Linked DNA regions of Homo sapiens. The protein of the gene in region 1 interacts with the protein of each later gene in a pairwise test. Each region holds a gene or a part of one and is shown in the gene's direction. Other genes may lie near its edges. The genes, in order: ANTKMT, ZNF76, SH3GL3, LUC7L and LUC7L2.

What was found.
Region 2: the proteins of ANTKMT (region 1) and ZNF76 interact in binary tests that used the Homo sapiens proteins (3 or more experiments, as listed by UniProt).
Region 3: the proteins of ANTKMT (region 1) and SH3GL3 interact in a two-hybrid assay, tested with the Homo sapiens proteins (one large-scale study listed by BioGRID and IntAct).
Region 4: the proteins of ANTKMT (region 1) and LUC7L interact in a two-hybrid assay, tested with the Homo sapiens proteins (one large-scale study listed by BioGRID and IntAct).
Region 5: the proteins of ANTKMT (region 1) and LUC7L2 interact in a two-hybrid assay, tested with the Homo sapiens proteins (one large-scale study listed by BioGRID and IntAct).

Annotation. Positions count from the first base shown.
Region 1 is NC_000016.10:718,807-723,329, forward strand, and holds ANTKMT (adenine nucleotide translocase lysine N-methyltransferase), read left to right. Parts: upstream 1-2,339; 5' UTR 2,340-2,468; coding exon 2,469-2,630; intron 2,631-2,791; coding exon 2,792-2,896; intron 2,897-2,994; coding exon 2,995-3,135; intron 3,136-3,277; coding exon 3,278-3,328; intron 3,329-3,502; coding exon 3,503-3,751; 3' UTR 3,752-3,784; downstream 3,785-4,523. Other genes in the region: CCDC78 (coiled-coil domain-containing protein 78), read right to left, coding at 3,872-3,983, 4,116-4,355.
Region 2 is NC_000006.12:35,283,735-35,287,234, forward strand, and holds part of ZNF76 (zinc finger protein 76), read left to right. Parts: intron 1-2,391; exon of another isoform or gene 2,392-2,393; coding exon 2,394-2,474; intron 2,475-2,587; coding exon 2,588-2,665; intron 2,666-2,696; exon of another isoform or gene 2,697-3,240; coding exon of another isoform or gene 3,241-3,256; intron 3,257-3,500. UniProt on the Homo sapiens protein: May be involved in transcriptional regulation.
Region 3 is NC_000015.10:83,610,553-83,615,387, forward strand, and holds part of SH3GL3 (endophilin-A3), read left to right. Parts: intron 1-861; exon of another isoform or gene 862-865; coding exon of another isoform or gene 866-1,035; intron 1,036-4,835. UniProt on the Homo sapiens protein: Implicated in endocytosis. May recruit other proteins to membranes with high curvature.
Region 4 is NC_000016.10:208,280-213,114, reverse strand, and holds part of LUC7L (putative RNA-binding protein Luc7-like 1), read left to right. Parts: intron 1-4,450; exon of another isoform or gene 4,451-4,514; intron 4,515-4,835. UniProt on the Homo sapiens protein: May bind to RNA via its Arg/Ser-rich domain.
Region 5 is NC_000007.14:139,417,981-139,421,845, forward strand, and holds part of LUC7L2 (putative RNA-binding protein Luc7-like 2), read left to right. Parts: intron 1-3,865. UniProt on the Homo sapiens protein: May bind to RNA via its Arg/Ser-rich domain.

The DNA of each region.
Region 1 (4,523 bases):
GGCTCAGGCACAGGACCGCTCCTCTGGGGCAGCCTCCAATAACCCTTGGACAACCTCCACTTTTTCATCTTCAGCCCTGACCACTCCCTGGGGCCCATAGCCTTACATCCATCTGCCCCCAGCCCAAACACTTCTGCAAACACTAGAAAAGGAGGTAGCCCGTGTGCCCTCCTGCACCGCCTCCTCCACTCCTGTCTTGGAGAGGCTTTCCCGTGGGCCGAGCAACCCCCTTACCTTTGGCACTTGCCCTGATTCTCTGGCCAGCTTCCTACAACCTCTCCTTTTCAGCCACACCCAAGTCCACCTGTTCACAAACACCCTGGGCTGGGCCCTGGCCGAACCCTGGCTTCTACCTACCTGTCTCAGGAAGTGCCTGAGCCTTGCACCTACAGACCCTCCCAGAGAAAGCCCTGGCTTTGCAACCAGCTGTCTTCTCATGAGACACAGGGCCACAGGAGCACCACGGTGCCCAAATGGGTCTTGGAGCATTAGACCAGGGGCTTCATGCCTGCCCTGGGGACAGGTGGCCAAAGTGGCATGGGAGATAGGGAGACAGTGTGGGTGAGCAGGTGGGCAGGAGCTACAGGAGCCTGGGGCCTGTGGATCACAGACACCGCCAGGCAAGTGCCAGTTCACACAGGTACAGGTGGCTGCAGAGTGCCCAAAGGCCAAGCAGCAGAGTGCCTGGTGTGGACGGGAGAGGAGTGGGGAGGTTGGGCGCAGTGGCTCACGCCTGTAATCCCAACACTTTGGGAGGCCCAGGCAAGCAGATCATGAGGTCAGGAGATGGAGACCATCCTGGCCAACATGGTGAAACCGTCTCTAATAAAACACAAAAAATTAGCCAGACATGGTGGCATGCATCTGTAATCCCAGCTACTCAAAAGGCTGAGGCAGAGGAATCACTTGAACCTGGAAGGCAGAGGTTGCAGTGAGCCAAGACTGCGCCACTGCACTCCAACCTGGGCGAAAGAGCGAGACTCAAGTCTCAAAAAAAAAAAAAAAAAAAAAAAAAAAAAAAAAAGAAGAGTGGAGAGTGCACGCTAGAGTCCAATTAGGTGCATTCATCCAGTAAGCCTCCTAGGTAACTGCTCTAGGTGCAGGGAATAATGCAGGCAGCAGGACAGGAATGGGCGCTGTCAGCTCCCCCTAGAGCTCAGTGTACATACACCCTTCCTTTCCTGGGAGGGCCGTTCCAGGCCCCCAGGAGACAGGACACGCTGAGCTGGGTGGGGCTGGGGCCAACGTGGGCAGGCCTGTGAGACTCTGCACTTGGGAGCTGGGGGCTGTGGTCTGCGGCATACCCATGTCTGGAAGCAGCCTCTGTCCCTGCAGGGGCTCTAGACCCCAGCCACGGATGGCTAAGGAGGAGCTAGGCCAGGGCACGCATAGACAACCCCCGACATTCACGGGTGTTCAGCCCTACCCTGGGTGTGGAGGTCGTGGCCCAGCTGCCTGACCCAGAGCTCGGCTCTTCCACTTGCGCTTCCCACCCCCAGCTTCACAAGGTCACCTCCAGGAACTCAGTCTTTTTGTGTGTTGTTTTCTGGAGAAGGAAGGTGATCTCCCCACTCCCGGGGCTGTCTGCCTTCCCTGTAGCTGGCAGGTGCCAGAGGCCCCCGCCTGTGACATCCGGCTTTCCTCCCACCACACTCGCCTGAGAGCCAGCATCTGTCTTCTTGGGCCTGCTCAAGCTCTCCTCCGTGTCAGCCCCTCCTCCATGCCCTTCTCCCTCAGACCCCACCCCCCATCCCTTCACCGCCCACTGGGGCTCATCGCTCAGGCTGTAGGAGGGAAATGGAAGGATGTCCTCCCGGGCTCTGGCTGGCGCTGGGTGTCCGAGTCAGCGGAGCGCCCCCAGCAGTCTCCCCGAGGCAGAGTCATGGGGGTGCTGGCGCCTGGACGCTGTCTCATCCCGGGGAGCCGCTTTCCCACCGGCTCCCTGGGCTCCAGCCGCCCCACGCGAGCCCCCGGCTGGTTCTGGGGCCAGGACCGCCCCTCTCCAAGGCAGACTTCCCTTCATTCCACGACAAAGACGCGCAGCCCCGTTTCCCTGGGGCTCTAGCCCGTGAGATCGCCGGGTGTATCCCGACTCCCGCCGGCACGTGCGCTCCCCCAGGGCAGGGCCTGCCTGTCCCCTTCCGCGGGTCGCCAGCAGCCAGCACAGGCCGCAAACGGCGGTCCGCAGAGCGGACCAACGGAGCCGACCCTCGCAGGCTTGGAGCCGGACGCGGCGGGGCAGAGCCCCCGAGGCTGCAGCTCGCCGGAACCCGCGGGAGGGCAGCCGGGCTGGGCGGAGCGCACAGCGCCACGGACCGACCGCGCAGGCTCTGCCGGCCACTTCCGGTGTCGCGCGGCGGCTCCCGGCAGGAGGCAGAGGGCACACCGCCAGCCCCAGGCCAGGCTGCGAGGGCCGCGGACCCGAGCCGGGAAGGACCTTGGGCGGACGAGCCGCGCGTCCCGCAGCCATGGAGCAGGACGACCCGGTCGAGGCGCTGACGGAGCTGCGCGAGCGGCGGCTGGGCGCGCTGGAGCTGCTGCAGGCGGCGGCCGGCTCGGGCTTGGCAGCCTACGCGGTGTGGGCGCTGCTGCTCCAGCCCGGCTTCCGGCGCGTGCCGCTGCGGCTGCAGGTGCGGGGCGGGGCCAGGCCGGGCAGGGGAGCTCGGCTGCCGCTCAGGGTCTCAAGGTCTGGGCGTGGCCGGGGTGAGCTCCGCCCCGCCGTGTGGTAGTTCGGGCCGGGCTGCGGGCGGGGCGGGAGCGGCCAGTGGACTCTCGCCGCCACCCGGTCCAGGTGCCCTACGTCGGCGCGAGCGCGCGGCAGGTGGAGCACGTGTTGTCGCTGCTGCGAGGACGCCCCGGAAAAACGGTGGATCTGGGCTCTGGCGACGGCAGGATCGTAAGTGCCTGCGTCTGGGTCTTCGCCGCCCCACACCGCCCACCTGCTGGCGGGCGCCCCTGCCCACATCCTGGTTCCCACACTCTCGGTGCCCACAGGTGCTGGCGGCCCACAGGTGCGGCCTCCGCCCGGCCGTGGGCTACGAGCTGAACCCCTGGCTGGTGGCGCTGGCGCGGCTGCACGCCTGGAGGGCCGGCTGTGCCGGCAGCGTCTGCTATCGCCGCAAGGATCTCTGGAAGGTAACCTGGGGATCCCTGGCCACCCGCTGACAGCCCAAGGTGCGGCTGACACCTGCGAGGGCTGGGGGCCGGGACTCGGAAGCTGCGATGACCCGGTGCCCACCAGGCCTCTCCCCGGCCGGGGCGACTTCTCTTCCGGCAGGTGAGCCTGAGGGACTGCCGCAACGTGTCTGTGTTCCTGGCCCCTAGCGTGGTAGGTGCGGGGTTGCCAGCCCCGCTGGGAAGCCCCAGCCACACCCCAGGGTGTTTGCTGCTCTGAGGCCTGGGCCTGCCTGGTGGGTGCTAGGCTTGGGGCTAGGGGGGTGAGCGCGGCTGTTTTCTACCGGCCCCGCCCCCGCCCCCTCTACTCTGCTGTTCTCTCCCTCAGCTCCCGCTGCTGGAGGACAAGCTGCGGACAGAGCTGCCTGCTGGGGCCCGCGTGGTGTCTGGGCGCTTCCCACTCCCCACCTGGCAGCCTGTGACCGCGGTTGGCGAGGGCCTGGACCGAGTATGGGCTTATGATGTTCCTGAGGGTGGGCAGGCTGGGGAGGCCGCCTCCTCGCGGATACCCATCCAGGCTGCCCCCGGACCTAGTTCTGCCCCCATCCCGGGGGGCCTTATTTCTCAGGCCAGCTGAGTATTAGACACGATAAAGACTCTGTGGGTTCTATCCTGACTCATGTTTTATGGGGGGCTGGGTGGGAGGGTTCTGTGCTGGCTGAGGAGCTCTGCTCTGCTCTGCTCCTTGGGAGACGGCCTAGTGGCTGCCGGTCCTTGGATGCTGGGGCTTGGCTGGAGGCACAGCCCCCACTTTCCAGGGGTCCCCTGCACCTGCCAGCTTCCTCAGCCTCAGGATTTCGTGCTTGTACCTGCTCAGAGGAACCATGCTTAAGTGACTTGCCCAGCTGTGGACAGGTCTGCTTTTAGCGCCTGAGGCAGCCATCATCCTTCATTCCAACCAGACCAGGGCCCTGGGGTCACACCCAGCTCCCTCTGCCCACCTGCCCAGGTGCTGGTCCACGTACTCCTGTAGCTCAGAAAGTTGCTCTTCAGCCATCGTGGCCCGGACCAGCAGCTGTGCCCGCTCCCGTTCCAGCTCTGCCTGGCATGGGGATGTAAGCCATGAGCTGGGGCATGGCGTGAGGATGGGCCTGGGCCAGCCCTTGCCTCCTACCTGGGTGCTGCGGGAGAAGTCCCGGAGCTTCTGGTGGATCTGGGCCCAGGATGCAGCGTCCAGGCCCCTGTGAGGGGAGAGGAAAGGAGGAGTGGTTTTGAGAGCTGGCATGGTGACACAGGGACAGACGTGACCGTGCTGAGTCAGGTTCCCAGAGCCGGGAGGGGACACCTGGGAGTGAGTGAGGGAGGCATGGGCCCCCCCCGTGCTCCTGTGGCGCCCCCCCCAGGCCTTG
Region 2 (3,500 bases), on another chromosome or scaffold:
CAGAACCCCAAGTACTGATGCCCTTGCCAGGACAGATAAATTGTTAAAATGAGGGTAGCCTACTGCTCTGTGGGTGGGAGGGAAGAAAATGGGTTCATCTTCCCCCCATCTCAGCTGCCTTTCCTATTTCTTACCTTTATCTCCACCTTACCTGCCTTTGGTTAGTTGTAGGACTGTTAGTTACTGACCCCAAGAAGACTCAGTTTGGGAGCAAGTTTGGGGATTCCTCTAAAGGGGAGACGTCAGCAGAGACTTGGGCTGGAAGTAACTGTCTTTCCCACCTGAGCGCTCAGTTTCCTAAACCTCAATCTTCTAAGGAAAGGACAAATCACTTGTCATTAACTTTTTTTTTATTTTTTCTTCCTTTTTTTTTTTGAGACGGAGTCTCACCCTGTAGCCCAGGCTGGAGTGCAGTGGCGTGATCTCGGCTCACTGCAACCTTCGCCTCCCGGGTTCAAGCGATTCTCCTGCCTCAGCCTCCCGAGTAGCTGGGACTATAGGCATGTGCCATCACGCCTGGTTAATTTTTTTGTATTTTTAGTAGAGACACGGTTTCATGATGTTGGCTAGACTGGTCTCGAACTCCCGACCTCAGGTTATCCGCCTGCCTCAGCCTCCCAAAGTGCTGGGATTATAAGTGTGAGCCACCACACCCAGCCTTACTTTTTTGTTTTTTCTTTTTGAGACAGGACCTCACTCTGTCACCCAGGCTAGAGTGCAGTGGTACAATCTCAGCTCACTGCAACCTCCGCCTCCCGGGTTCAAGTGATTCTCCTGCCTCAGCCTTCCGAGTAGCTGGGACGACAGGTACCTGCCTCCACACCCAGCTAATTTTTTTGTATTTTTAGTAGAGACAGGGTTTCACCATGTTGGTTAGGCTGGTCTCAAACTCCTGACCTCAGGTGATCTGCTCGCCTTGGCCTCCCAAAGTGCTGGGATTACAGATGTAAGCCACCGTGCCCAGCCTTTTTATTTATTTATTTTTTATTTTTTTCAGACAGGGTCTTACTCTGTCACCCAGGCTGGACTGCAGTGGCATAATCACGGCTTACTGCAACTTCTGCCTCCTGGGCTCAAGCAATCCTCCCACCTCAGCCTCCCGAGTAACTGGGACCACAGGCATGCACTACTACATCCAGTTAATTTTTGTGTTTTTTGTAGAGACAGGGTTTTGTCACATAGCTCAGGCTGGTCTCAAACTCCTGAGCTCAAGCGATCCACCCGCCTTGGCCTCCCAAAGTGTTGGGATTATAGGCATGAGCCACCGAATCTGACCATCATTAACTCTTCAATCTCCCTTTCTTTCCTTTCTCATTTCTCTTCTTCCTTCCCCCTCTGTCAGACTCACTGGACACAAGGAAGGGTCGTCTAGTTCTAATTTCAAGAGCCTTATTAGAAGTGCTTTCCAGTAAGGTAAAGGAAGAGTAATATCTTAGGAAATCTGGAGGCTTGTTAATTTTTATGCTGCTTGTTGTGTTGCCTTAGGTGATCTAATTTTTTACTAGAAAATTGAAATGAAAAATGAGAGGTCAATGAAGGAACATTACTCAACAGTGGCAGTGGAATAAGACCTTCATGGACACATAATAGCATAATAGTTGTGCTCACATAGTTCTCTATTGCTTTACTTTCCATTTCTTCTAAAATGCATATTGGGCTTATAATAAAAGCTAGGATTTATTGAGGGCTGACCATATATACCTGGCACTCTTCCCAGTTTTTTATATTCGTTAACTCATTTAACCCTAACAGCAACCCTATAAGAGACACAGTTTTCAATCCCCATTTTAAGAAAAGGAAACTGAGGCACAGAGAGGTTAGTTAAATAAGCTGTCCAAGGTCACACAGCTGTTAAGAGGTAGAGCTGGAATTCAAACTCTGGAGGCCTGGCCTGGTTCCAGAGTCTATTGTTTTTAACCATTAAGCTATATATCCTGCCTTCACAGGGGCTCCTGGTCTTAGCACACTGTCATAGTGAGGGATGAGGGGATATGTTTTGATTTTGTTAGTTTGAGCTATATCTGAATTTTGACCCACTGGGGCTCATCCAGGTTTAAGGGCCATTAGTTCAAGTCTCAGCAACTTACTATTAGGTTGGAAGTTTCCACTTGGCTGGGCATGGGTAGAATAATAAGTGAAGTTATTCCTCCTGTTAGTAACTGGAAGGGAATCTGTTGGGAGGTGATGGGTTCGGCAAGGCAAGTGTCTTCACCCTTAGTGTCTCAAGGCCCAGGCCCAGGGAGACAGAGCAAGGGAACAAGGAAGATGTTACCCATGCTTAGACCTGCAGGCTCGTGCCTAGAGACTCAAATAAGCCTCAGCTAAAAACAGGCAGGCGTTTCTTAGCCCTCTTCTGGTCCTGGCCCATTTCTCTCTATTTCCACTCTTAACAGGAGAGAAGCTTCTTGAAGGGCAGGTGATCCAGCTCGAGGATGGGACCACCGCATACATTCACCAGGTGACGGTACAGAAAGGTGAGGGCACCCCAACACACCATGCCTTGTCGAGGGAAGCCTGACAGCCCCCACCAAGGGACCCCTCCATGGCACTGAGCTCCAGGGAAAGGCAGGCATTGCTCTCGTTACAGAAGCTCTCTCCTTTGAGGATGGTCAGCCTGTGCAGCTGGAAGATGGCAGCATGGCTTACATACACCGCACACCCAGAGGTAGGGTCACCATCATCACAACTCGGGGAAGGATGGGAGGCAGGACTGGAGGATGGGGTGGCAGGACTGGAGGATGGGATGGCACACAACTGGGGTGTAGACATGGGAGCTGTCATCTCCATGGTACACACATGCTCACCTGGATTAGCAGCCTTGCCCACCTTCCCTGGTGCAGACCACAGGAGCAGCTATGTCTGCAACTGGGAGGTGAGCCTTGGAGATCAGTGACGTGGACTTTGATGGTGGCCTTGGCTCCAGCACAGCCACAAAGTCTTAGGGCTTTAAATAGGACCCGAGGATATCATCCAAGACCAGGAAAAAAAACTAATATTTTAGAATGAAGCTCCTAAGGTGCTGAAGAATAACAATTTATTCCTTCCGCAGGTGGTTTCTTGAGTGACTGTTGCATGCCTGGCGTTGTGTTAGGTGTGCAGTATACAAGACAGAACAAAGTCAGACACAGTCCCCGCTCTCCTAGAGTCTAGAGGGGGAAACAGAAGTGAAACAAGCCATCAGTGATGAACTGATCATTACAAACAGAGATCAGGCTCAGGGAGGGCTTCTCTGAGGTAGTGATGCTTGAGCTGAGAGGTAAAGAATGAGGTAGACTTAGCTGGGGGAAGAGGGATGGCAGGGAGGGTTCAGTACTTCAGGCAGAAGGAATAGCATGTGCAGGCCTAGAGCTGGGGGGAAGAAAGAACAGCACATTCCAGGAACTGCTAGGAGCTAGAGCCCTGGGAGTGAAGGCAGAATGAGCAGGAGGAAACTGGAGAGAGAAAGACAGGGCTGGTGCACTCTGGGTTTGAGTGTCAGGGTGAGGATTTTGGTCTTTATC
Region 3 (4,835 bases), on another chromosome or scaffold:
GAGAAAAGAAAGAAAAAGAAAAAGAGTGGGGATAAGACCACAAACTAACAATTTTCAGGGGGTATATTGCATAGGGATCAAGAACGTGGACTCTCTACCTGGCCCGAGGTCAAGTCTCAGTGTTGTGGCTTAATTGTGTTAAATTTGTGTCCTCAATTTCTCCATCCCTCACATTGGGGGAAATAGTGGTACCTACTCATAGGATTTCTCTGGGAATTAAATCCATAAATCCACTAATATCTCTGAGACACTTAAAATATTGTCCTGGCACATGGTAAACACTAACACCTGAGAGTTATTATTTCGTCCCTGTAGCTGAGTAGGGCTGAGGAATTGTAGGATTGGACCGCCTCTACCTTAATAAAATGTGCTCAGCATTTCTGCATATGCAAGTAACCCTTTGCAGCAGCAGGGACTTCAGCCAAAAAATATATATATATATATATAATATGTATGTGTGTGTGTATAAATGTATGTGTGTGTGTCTATATATATATATAGAGACAAAATAAGTGGAGTTGGGGGAGGGGCACCGCAAATAATGTTCCTGCTGTTAAAATAAGAGGGACTGAACCATATTAATGCCAAGGGGGAAGTTCAGTTTATTTCAGGGGGGACGTGGTTTTCCTACCTCCTACTGTGTTACTGATACAGTACTTACTGACCAGCCGTCTTAAACTCTTGTGGTAGGGTCTCTCTCTCTCTCTCTCTCTTTCTCTTTTTCCTAATGGTGTGGAACAGAGCTTGAATAATAAATATTTAACAGGGACACTCCCTTTTCTCTGTTAAAATAATCTTTGTTTCAATACTTTAACAAGGAAGACTGTGTTTTCCCACCTCTGCTCTCACGTTTCGTTGAAGCCAGGTCTCAGGAGTAAGAGAAAATCAACACAAGGCCACTTGGGGAGGGCAGTGCTGGCTGAAGCCGTCTCACTGGACAGCCCAGGGTCAGGGGTTTCAGCCGCCTGTTCAAGGACACCGAGATCCACAGCAGCCACCTGGGAGCTCCTACACAACTATGCCCAGCGATTCCAGGTGCCAGCTACTGAATGTGAGAGAGCAAGGAGGTGGAGGTGGATGAGGAACTGCCAGCTGCAGGACCACAGGGGCAAGGGGAAGGGGTTGTCAACAGGGATGGGACGCTGGGTAGGATCAGTCTTTTCTTACGAGACGTTTTCAGCTGAGGTGCTGGCTTCTGATGGTGGGAAACCAAGCATTCAGGTCCCTTGGAGAGGCTTATATCTAACAGTTGGAAAGCCTCCATTGAGGAAATCCAGCCCATTCTGCCTGGACTTTGGGGCTCCATCCATGGTGACTTTTGTGTCAAGGGAAAATTCACACACTGTCCCTCAGGCGGGCAGCAACTTAATTTCTCTTTAGCTGAACTGAACTTGCTTGCAAGCCTCTATGTAGACCAATGGCGGAAACAACTTAATCTTTTTTCCATTTCTGTTGTTGACCAAAAAAAAAAAAAAGCTTTAAAATCTTTTTTCCATTTCTTCTAATGGTGGAAAAAAGCATAATCTTGCCATTTCAAGGTAGCTCAGTCTCTTCCAATAGAAAGCATAGACTATCCGTTTATGACTTAGGCGATTCCAGATTTAAACACAGTCAATTCAGAGTAGAAATTCCCTATCAGGGCTGTTGGTTTTTCTTGAAGGTTCTCTCCTCCCCCTGGTCCAGTCCTAAGATGTTGCCTAGATGTGAGGGGGGTTTACAGAACATCATGGTGGCAGGTAGGGAGGCTCACTTCCACAGCTGAGGTGACTCGTCACAGGAGGCCTGGGGCCTGGGCCAGGATCTGTGCTGACATCTGTGGCTTAGGCCTCCCTCTCTGGGTTGCTGAATCTCTGTATTTGGAGCCGTGTGTCACTGCCCCCAGGCAGCCTCTGGCCTCAGTGGCCCCTCAGCACTTCCTGCTGGGGACTTGAGGGAATTTGTTCACAGTTCACAGGGAGCGACCAGCCTTCAGGCCCCATCTGTACTTAGTGACACCACATGGTTTCCACTGGGCTCCAGCCCCCGTGTTAGTCCAGAGAACTTTGACAGCTGCCTTCTCCCGGGATTTCTGTGGAAAGTGGAGTCTAAGACCCCCTTCCCCAGGGTGGCATCCAAGGAGCATTTCAATTTTCTTGCTCACCCTCTTCTCACTGCAGGCCCCTTCCCTGCTTCCCTGCCTCCAGAAAGAGCTTGTATCTCTTCTCTGGATGGCAGGAAACAGCTCCTCCCTCTCCATGGCTTGTAATCAAAATGCTAGGCTCTGAGTTCTTCAAGCTCTAGTTCTTGGAACCCAGAAGTTTCTCTCTCTCTCTCGCTCTTAAATCTTATAAAAGCCTACCTGGCTCTAGCATGAAAGCCTAAAAGCCTTGGCTTTCACAATGTTTCACAACTGAAATGGTATTATTTGGGAATTTAAAAGCTAAACATTGACTGCTTTGTTCATGTCTGGGTTCCACCCTCCTCCTCAAGTAAGGGAGGCAAGCCCCAGCTCCTTGGGTTGAGGGCCCCAGGCAACAGAAATGACCCAGAATGAAAAATGCATTGATACTTCAGAATATCGTCCGGCTGCATGTATAATTCAGGGCAGCCAGTCTGAGCTCTGGTTGGGGTGGATTTACCAACTGCCTACTTAGCAAGTGCCAATTGCTCTTAGTGTTGTAGCCAGCCCAGTGGTGGCTGGAGGGCCAGGTGCACTTGTACTGCCTGAGTCAGGGAGTTCTTGAACAGGGTCTTTCTACTCAGTGGTCTCTGGAGAGATGCCCTGCCTTGGGTTTAGGTGCTGATGGAGTGTGATATGAGTGCTGGTCTCTTTCCAGCTCTCAGAATATCAAAGTGGGCAATGTGGCAGTGGTTCCTTGCCAAGAATGAATGACATGAGAAGTGAGTAATGCAGCTTTTCCATGATTTGTTCTGTGTGTGTGTGCAGCAAGAACCCAGGTTTACACATGGAGGTGGTGGCCTGGTTTACACATGGAGGTGGTGCATACACTTGGACAAATGTATGCTTGCCACTAAGCATTTTGGTCATTGCAGGTGGCTTATAGAGTAAATGGGAGGGAAATATATAAATCTATCTATCTATCTATCTATCTATCTATCTATCTATCTATCTATCTATCTATCATTAGCCCTGTAATCAGTGTGTCAGCCTATGAAATGTCTTGGCAACCCTTAGTGGTGTCATAGATCATGTACGAGGTGACATGGAGCAAGGTAGCTGATGGCCTAGGGTCTGGAGCCCTCCTGTTTCTGGCTCAGCCAGTAGCCCTGGGGCCAGGCCATTATGACCTCTCAGAGGCATTGATGGCTTCTCTTGGAAAAGGAGAGGACTCATGGAGGACTGCCAAATTCCATTCTAGCATTAACATTCTGTGTTCAAGGAAATGCTTCCCGAGACTACCATGTGGTTTGGCACCTGACCCCTTCTCTGTTAAAAACTAGTCTAGTAGTGGGAGAAATGCTAAAAGAATAATAATTATTTTTATAATCCACATTAAAACAGTTATACATTAATAAAGTAGACTTTGACTCACAGCTCAGGTTGCCCTTGGTTTTCAGTGCTCAGCCCCCACCTGCCCACCCATATACACACTCCATGACCCAAGGAAAATGAAAAGTTCTGTATTGTAAGCCCTCTATTCCCCATGCTTTGTTTGAAATCATTGAATGTTGTTCTGTTCAAATTCAAAATAGTGAACTAATCCCCAATATTTACAGCCTTCCACCCCCTAGCTTTCATCATTATGACAAGAGGAATACACAGACTTAGGCAGGGGTGGGGTCTGTCACGGAAGGAGCTGTCTAGAGGCTAGAAACATCATGTAGATCATAGAGGTTATATTGCAGGTGGGTTCAGAGTTTCAAAGTCACGACCCAGTACAGGAGCTGCCTCCCTGAAGAGGAAGAAGAGCTCCCCTACCATTACCCCCTTCTCTTTCCTCGCCAGCTGAGTCTCTTTAACCTTTAACGCTTCCTTAGGGGAAGGAGAGGGGAGGATCATTTCACTGGTGGTTGTCAACCTACCCTGGACATAGGAAGGACCTGAGAAACAAAAAATACTGATGCCGGGTTCACCCTGGGCAGTGGGCTGTTTAGTGTGCCACCAAGTTGAGAACCACTGCCATAGGAAGGCAACAGGAAGCCACCTTGGTACAACCTGGGGAGCTCCGCTGATGAAGGCTCCTTAGAGTGCCCTGTTCCTTAGAGATATAGGCGCTACTCCATGAATTTCAAGCTGTCTAAACAACTATAATATAATCCTTCTCACAACAGGAATCTCCATTGCCCCAACTCTTGTCTTCCTCCTCCCATAATGCTGTCACCTCTCTACCCCTCCCCAGGACAAAGGGGCATCTCATTTGGCCAGCCACAGAAATACCCCAACGTACCTATTCTCTTTACTTGGACCTAGAAGACTTAGTGGAGAAAGAACATAATCTCTAGCAGAACTTGTTCAATTCTCACTTGAAGTCTAGAGGGAGGAAAAAGTCTTATAACAGAAAAAGGAAATAAAAATGGAAATCATCAAATAGGATGGCAAAAGTCACTTATTAAGAAAAAAAAAAACTCCTAAGATTAATCTTATTAATACTCAAAGAAAAAAAGTATGAACTAGTCAAAATTGAAGTGAGATTTTTGTGAGAGAAATGTGTCATATTAATACTGAAATATACCTAGTTAAATGAATTCATGAGAATAGCAAGGAAATATTGAAATAGAAGGGTAATGACTATGAACTAGTTTTACTAGTTATTAACATTTTATTTATTTATTTATTTTTGAGATGGAGTCTCACTCTGTCACCCAGGCTGGAGTGTAGTGGTGTGATCTCAGCT
Region 4 (4,835 bases), 510 kb from region 1:
ACTGTCAAACAGCAATATTAATCATATTAAGCTCTGAAAAAGTTACAGATGGCCAGGTGTGCGCTCACGCCTGTAATCCCAGTACTTTGGTGGGAGGCAGAGGCCGGAAGATTGCTTGAGCCCAGGAATTCGAGACCAGCCTGGGCAAAGTCTCTACAAAATCAGAAATGTTAGCTGGGTGTAGTGACGTGTTCCTATAGTCCTACCTGCTTTGGAGGCTGAGGTGGAAGGATGGTTTGAACCTGAGAGGTCAACGCTAAAGTGAGCCGTGATCGTGCCACTGTATTCTAGCCTGGGTGACAGAGCAAGATCCTCTCGGGAAAAAAAAAAAAGGTATATTTCTTTAGTGTTCACATGTTGAAAATGTAATGAATGTGTCTTTGTAATTCACCAAAAGTGTAATTAACCTTTACTCCCATGTTGTCTGGCCATGTGATGTTTTGAAAAGTTTTCAAAACAACATATATGGGCTCATTTCAAAGCTGTTTTTAATATACCACATGAGACCAGTTCTGATTGTATGTAGTTTTCCTGTCTTACAGTTGTCCAGTATAAGAGTGACATTTTTCTAGGTCAAATGTCTTGAGTTAGAGTCCCTGTGTGACCCTGGGCAAGTTATTTCACCTTCTTTTTTTCATCTATAAACTGGGCTGACGATGGCTGCCTCAGATTTGTGAGGATGAAGTGCAGGTCTTTGGAGCCAGACCACAAGGGTCCTTGGATCCTGACTCCATTGCTTACTTAGTGGTTTGGTAGCTGTGCTTCACTTTCATCATCCATGCAATGGAGACCCGACGAGCTCCTCTGCGGCTGTGTTTTTTGAGATGGAGTTTCGCTCTTGTTGCCCAGGTTGGAGTGCAATGGCACGATCTCAGCTCACTGCAACCTCCGCCTCCCGAGTTCAAGTGATTCTCCTGCCTCAGCCTCCTGAGTAGTTGGGATTACAGGCATGCACCACCACGCCTGGGTAATTTTGTATTTTTAGTAGAGATGGGGTTTCTCCTTGTTGGTCAGGCTGATCTCAAACTCCTGACCTCAGGTGATCCACCCACCTCAGCCTCCCAAAGTGCTAGGATTACAGGCGTGAGCCACCGCGCCCGGCCCCTCTGCGGCTCTTTGGAGGTGTTTAGCGCACGTGCCTAGTGCAGCACAAGGGCACCTGTCTGCTGTGACAGTTCTGACTGACATCATGGGCTTTTCTCAGGCTCAGTGACCACCGGCCTGTGTCAGTGCTGCTGGGCCGGGAGAGCTGGTAACAGCACCAGGCAGTCCGTGTGTGGAGGGACAGCCTCCTCAGTGGAGATGACGTGTGCTGATATTGTCCAGTTTTGCCATACTGTTAGGACACAAGTCTTTGTGCTGGTGCTGTCTGTGCTCAGGGGCTTTTAGGGTTTATGTTTCATAACGCTACTCAGAGATAGAGAGAGATTGGGTGACTTTCTAGTAAGTGGTAGGTTGTGATTAGGACTTAATTTTTGGAATCGAATGTCTTTTTTTTATCATTTAGATCTGCTCTTTTAAGAAACAGGCTAAAGTTGAGAAACACTTTGAAGGGAGAGGGCAGTAGAACAGAAAGCCACCTTTTAAAGAACTTGGCAGCTCTTGGTTGGCTTGTTCTCTGTTGTGAAGTTTACCATTTATAGTTGTTGTTTTCTGTTTGAGCCAGTCTTGCTCTGTCGCCCAGGCTGGAGTGCAGTGGCGTGATCTTGGCTCACTGCAACCTCCGCCTCCCAGGTTCAAGCGATTCTCCTGCCTCAGCCTCCCTTGTAGCTGGGATTCACCTCGTAAGGCGAATTAACCTTAGCATATGATAGTTCTTTTAGTGTTTCCCACCACCCTTTTCAGAGTAAGCAATTAGACGTCTAGAGTTTCTTTTCCTCTATCTCTTTGGGTAAATAGCAACCAGTGGTGCCCGCCACCACGCCTGGCTAATTTTTTGTATTTTTAGTAGAGATGGGGTTTCACCATACTGGCCAGGCTGGTCTCAGACTCCCAAAGTGTTGGGATTACAGGCGTGAGCCACCGTGCTGGGCCTACCATTTAGTGTTCTTTTTTTTTTTTTGAGACGGAGTGTTGCCCTGTCACCCAGGCTGGAGTGCAGTGGCACACAGTCTCTGCTCACTGCAAGCTCTACCTCCCGGGTTCATGCCATTGTCCTGCCTCAGCCTCCCGGGTACCTGGGACTATAGGCGCCCGCCACCACGCCCGGCTAATTTTTTGTATTTTTAGTAGAGACGGGGTTTCACTGTGTTAGCCAGGGTGGTCTCGATCTCCTGACCCCGTGATCCGCCCACCTCAGCCTCCCAAAGTGCTGGGATTACAGGCGTGAGCCACCACGCCCGGCCACCATTTAGTTTTTAGGTTATCAGACATCTGAGTCCATAGCCAATTTGGATTCTGCTTAAGGTGCAGGTAATTGCTTTGATGGGTTTAGGTATTGGGAGAGTTGTCAGCTGCCTATTTCCCATTTGACCCCTCGAGTGAATCCCTGAATCTGTCTCAGGTTGGTGATTGATTGCTCAGCTTGAGCAGACAGTACAGGGCCACTGTGTGGGTGAACCTGGAGCATCTCAGACTGGTCTGTTAGGGGCTGTTGTCTGAGGTAAGCACAGAAGAGAAGGCACAGTGACCCTTGTCAGCTCCTTAATACTTGGATCCTGATGAGCTCCAGCCAGCTCTTCACCTTTCCAGAAAGTCCAGTGTACAGGTGCATAGAAGCAGTCAAATGCCGGATCATTTGTTTTCCTGATTCTTTGATTTGAACATACTGAAATGTTGACTAGAGAATATCTGGGTGACCAACAAGAAGCAGTTTATGTATTTTTTTGAGAGGGAGTCTCGCTCTTGTTGCCCAGGCTGGAGTGCAATGGCGCGATCTCAGTTCACTGCAACCTCTGCTTCCCAGGTTCAAGCAGTTCTCCTGCCTCAGCCTCCGAAGTAGCTGGGATTACAGGCATGCACCACCACTCGTGGCTAATTTTGTATTTTTAGTAGAGATGGGGTTTCTCCATGTTGGTCAAGCTGGTCTCGAACTCCTGACCTCAAGTGATCCACCCGCCTTGGCCTCCCAAAGTGCTGGGATTACAGGCGTGAGCTACCACGCCTGGCCAAGAGGCAGTTTTTGAATTCCAAAATTATGGAGTGATATCTGGGAGTCAGCCTTCATCAGTGATGCTGCTTGTGCTTTCTCCAGCTTCTTGGGAGACTGGGCACCAGGAGACTTGGAGGTTCTTCCCTATCTTACCTACTCCCAAGTATGCATGTTTTTGAAAAAAATATTTAAGATTTCTAGAGAAGATCACAATCTTCTCCAGTGTCTGTGTAATCCATTGTGGAGCAGTTTATTACAGCTGACCTACTGTCTCCTGTCTGTTTTAGGAGCGGTGACTTAGGTTATCACCCCTTAGTGTTTTCCTGTCATCTGCCTTCTCATCTCCACCTAAAATTTAGTTTTTGGTAAAAGATCATGCTATCTAACCTTGTCATCATTGCAAAACAAACTTATTTATGTTTATCATGATGCTGACATTAGCAAGCTGACTCATGGTTTAATGTTAGTGTTTCTTACTACTGGTCACTGGCTGACAGTCGGAAAAGTGATGCCCTATTTTTTTTTTTTTTTTTTGAGATGGAATCTTGCTCTGTTGCCCAGGCTGGAGTGCAGTGGTGCCATCTCGGCTCACTGCAACCTCTTCCTCCCAGGTTCAAGCGATTCTTCTGCCTCAGTCTCCTGAGTAGCTGGAACTACAGGTGCATGCTACCACGCCCAGCTAATTTTTATGTTTTTAGTAGAGATGGGGCTTCACTGTATTGGGAAGGCTGGTCTTGAACCTCTGACCTCATGGATCCTCCCGCCTCGGCCTCCCAAAGTGCAGGGATTACAGGTGTGAGCCACTGGGCCCTGCCTTTTTTTGTTTTTGTTTTTGTTTTTGATACGGAGTCTTGCTCTGTTGCCTAGGCTGGAGTGTGGTGGTCTGGTCTCAGTTCACTACAACTTCTGCCTCCGAGGCTCAAGCGATTCTCCTGCCTCAGCCACCTGAGTAGCTGGGATTACAGGCACCCGCTATCATGCCCAGCTAATTTTTGTATTTTTATTAGAGACCATGTTGGCTAGACTGGTCTTGAACTCCTGACCTCATGATCCGCCCACCTTGGCCTCACAAAGTGCTGGGATTACAGGTGTGAGCCACTGCGTCCGGTCCTGTCTCTGTTTTTATCTGAAATTATGTTAGCCTTTGCCTAGTTATGGTGAATTAACCTTAGCATATGATAGTTCTCTTAATGTTTCCCACCACCCTTTTCAGAGTAAGCAATTTGACGTCTACAGCTTCTTTTCCTTTATCTCTTTGGGTAAATAGCAACCAATTTTTCCTGCTACTTTAGATAGTAGGCAATAACAAAATGTATTCATAGCTCTCAGTAATATTTGTTCTATTGTTTTGTTTTTGAGGTGAAAGGGGGGACCCTACCCTCAGAACATGAGGGAATAATATTTACGTGGCTCACAAAGACCAGTGAGTACATCATATGCATCTCTCACAACTCCCCAGAAGAGGGCCTCCAGCACGAGTCTAGGCTCAGCCTTTTCTGTCCCTCCGAGAACTCTATGAATTGCTGCCAAGTGTTTTAATTTTCCTCAGAATTTCTTTGTAATGTTATTGAGGGTTGGAGGTCCTTTTACAAATTTTGGAAATAAGTAAATCAAATGAGAAGACCATGCTTCCAAACAATCATTCTGTTTAACAGATCCCCTTGATTTAATGCAATTATGAATGCGTTAGTGGTAGTGTAGTTTAAGATCTTTCCCTTGAATGTACAGGCTTTAAAGAAACGAA
Region 5 (3,865 bases), on another chromosome or scaffold:
AGTGTGTCTTGGAAAAAAGTTCTTTACAGGTAAATAATTTTAAATACCAATACCCTTAGTATGGATCAGCAAATTAGGGGCTCTGAGAAGTCCTTTCATTACAAGAGTTGTTTAGCTTTGATTTATTGTTTTCTAAACTTATTTGAGCTGGGATGCTTTTTCAGAGCAGACACATTCTAGTATATTCTTGTTTTATCTGCACTATAGATATGTATTGTTACATACCTTCAGCTTGGCAAGGCAGACTAATAAGGAGGTTCCAAGACTTCCCTTGGTTTAATGAGAACATTCAAAAGGTGCAGGCATAGGGTAAGGTATGTTTGAGGACTTGAATATCTATTAAGGATAGACAAAGGATTATAATGTGGTAGAAGAGTTTAGCATTCATAGTCTGTATAGATCAAACTGTCAAAACTTCTCAGGTCACATGATGGCCCTTAAACCAGGTAATTTCTGTGTAACGTAAGCCATGTTTAAAATTGCTTTTTTCTTGACAACTATTCAGAAGTATATGTATGATAAACATTTTTTGAGTGCCTAGTACCTACTAGTCTTACATATTCTGTGGATTACTCCACATAAAATCTATAATAAAATCCACAGAAAGCTGTTAAAATCTTTCCTATTTTTTTTTGACTCAACTTTCCATTCCCTGAAATCACTCACAAGCTGAGTTTGTTAATAGGCTCTCAATATTTTATTTCTTATATTCTGGCCTTGTTTTTAGTATTTCTTAAGGTGATTTTAATAATAATTAATTGTATATGTTTTACTGTACTAGACTTAGTAAAACATAAGAAAGACGTATAACATAGTTGAACAACTTTAAGTTGCTCTAAGAAGTTTCCTATGTGAGGCTGGGTGCCATGGCTCACGCTTATAATCCCAGCACTTTGGGAGACCGAGATGGGCGTATCACTTGAGATCAGGAGTTCAAGACCAGCCTGGCCAACCAACCCCATCTCTACTAAAATACAAACATTAGCCGGGCATGGTGGCACATGCCTGTAATCCCAGCTACTCAGGAGGCTGAGGAAGGAGAATTGCTTGAACACAAAGGTGGAGGTTGCAGTGAGCCAAGATCGCACCACTGCACTCCAGCCTGGGTGACAGAGCGAGACTCCAGCTCTCAAAACAAAAAAAAACAAACAAAAAAAAAAACAAAAAGTCTCCTATGTGAGTTAGAACAAAGGATTGACATCTTTGACAATAATTAGACTGGCATAAGACTACCACATGTTATAAAGTGCTAAACTGCATATCATAGAATAAATGATCCGAGAGTTTAGATGAGGCAAATAACAGAGTAATCAAAAATGGCTTCAGGTAGTCGGTAAAATTTGAACAGGTAGAATCAGCTAGGAAAAAGATATTCCATATAGAGTGAATATCCTAGGCAAATGCAGAGAATGAGGAGGGAGTTTGTAAAGGACAGAGTGATTTGTAGGCCTCTTATCTCACACTCTTGAAACTGATTTTGGGGGTCTACCCTCAGTGCAGTGTTCAGAAATAAGCATTTTTTAAAAGTTACCTGTCTTATCTGCACAATGAATTTTCAGAATTATCCTGCTAGGTGATGGAAGGTTTAGACATTTTCCTGTGTCAAATCTGCCCAACTGTCATTGTTGTTGCTGAACTCCTAAATGTCTTTATTGGTGATGGGTATGGGAAGGATGGGCGTGAAGTCCCCTAATCTGAGATTGTGTTATTTTAGTCCCTGATGCTTCCTGCGTTGATGAAGTTGTATAGGAATTTTTCCACCATACATGATACATGATCATATCTAAGATGTCAGCATGTTCATAAAGAGGATTATTTTTGTAAAACTATTAAAAGTTTTGCTTTTCTCGAGCACTTTCTCATCTTTGAATTCAAATTATTCTCTTTTAAAGCATCATTCTTTGTTTTATACTAAAAATTACCAGATAATTGCTGTTAAAACCTACTTGGTATTTCATACAACATCAAGTTATTGCTACATATTTGGGTTTAATTTTTCAAGGTAAAAGTTCTTATTGAAAGCCTTTTATGTTTTGCTGTTCTCCTTTCCCTACTGTGAAATACTTGTCTCTGATACAAGTAGATTCTTTGTGACCTCTTCCTGGCAATAGTGCCCTGCGTAAATGAGGACCATTTGCATCTATCTATCTTTTTGCTCTGTTCAAACATGTTTAGTGCAGACTCCAAAGTCAGATTACTTGGGTTCATTGGTTTAGGCTAAGTAATTTATTTTTTTTTTTGAGACGAGAGTCTCGTTCTGTCACCCAGGCTGGAGGGCAGTGGCGCGATCTCGGCTCGTTGCAACCTCTGCCTTGCGGGTTCAAGCGATTCTTTTGCCTCGGCCTCCCAAGTAGCTGGGATTACAGGCCCAGGCCACCACACCTGGCTATTTTTGTATTTTTAGTAGGGACAGGGTTACGCCATGTTGGCCGGGCTGGTCTCAAACTCCCGACCTCAGGTGATCCACCTGCCTTGGCCTCCCAAAATGCTGGGATTACAGGCATGAGCCACCACGTCCCACCTTGGCTAAGTAATTTATAACTATCTCACCTGTCTTTCCCCATCTACTAAGTGGAGAAAGTAAGAATACCTGCTTTGTTAAGATTATTGGTAGTTTGAGTAAAATAGTATATGGAAACCACTATGTGTGGGACATAGTAGTTGATACTCATAGTTTTTTAGTTATTACTGATCACTGGGACTGTTTGGCATCTAGTGTCTTTTTAGGTATCATTTTTACCATCTCTTTTCATATTTTATTCCAACAAAGGCTATGGATAGGACTAGTGTAGACGTGGAATCACTAGACTTGGCACTGTGATTTTTTGTTGTTGTTGAGATGGAGTCTTGCTCTGTCACCCAGGCTGGAGTGCAGTAATGCGATCTGGGCTCACTGCAGCCTCCGCCTCCCAGGTTCAAGTGATTCTCCTGCCTCAGCCTCCCGAGTAGCTGGGACTACAGGCACACGCCACCACTCTCAGCTAATTTTTTGTATTTTAAGTAGAGACGGGGGTTTCACTATGTTGGCTAGGCTGGTCTTGAACTCCTGACCTCAAGTGATCTGCCTGCCTTGGCCTCCCAAAGTGCTGGGATTACAGGCGTGAGTCACCGTGCCCAGTCTTTTTATATCATTTTAAGTTTATTAAAACATTAAGTAGAATGTTCAAAGTGGACATTATTTTAGAACCATTTTTTGTTTAACCCTCCTTAACTATATTTCTAAAACTGAACAGTCATATTTTTTATTTTCCTGAAAGTATTACTTATTCAGGTTCTTGGTAGTGCCTCAGATCCTAATTTTGAATATGGGTTGAGTGAGATAATTATGTAAAAGTGCTGTGTCACCTGTAAAGAACCAAATAAATGTAATTTGTTGAATTTTAGATGTTGGAAGTATGGAAGATTCCATGTTTATTCTGATTCCATAATATGTTTGGTTTTCCGATTGATTTATTATTTACCTTTCTTATAATGAAGTTGGGTATGGGAATGGAGAAGGTAGTAAACAGTTATGGCTAATCAAGATTTATTAGTGTGAGCATCTTTGTCTTTTTTTATTTCCCCTTGTTGGTTGAATAAGCTAACTCAGTATGAGTAGATTTTTAGAAGTGGTTATTTAAATTCATATTAATAATTGAGTAGTTCTCTTATCTAAGTCAGGTGTTGGCAAACTGTTGCCGATAGGCCAAATCTGGCCGGTAGCCTGTACAACCAGCAAGCTATGGATGGTTTTTACATTCTAAAAAGAAAAGAACTGCCACAAAGATTGCATGGACCTGCAGTACCCCAGATAGTCACCATCTGGCCCCTATTCTAAGCCATTTAAAATTTAGATAATACATTTCTTTCACTTTTTAAAGCTGTT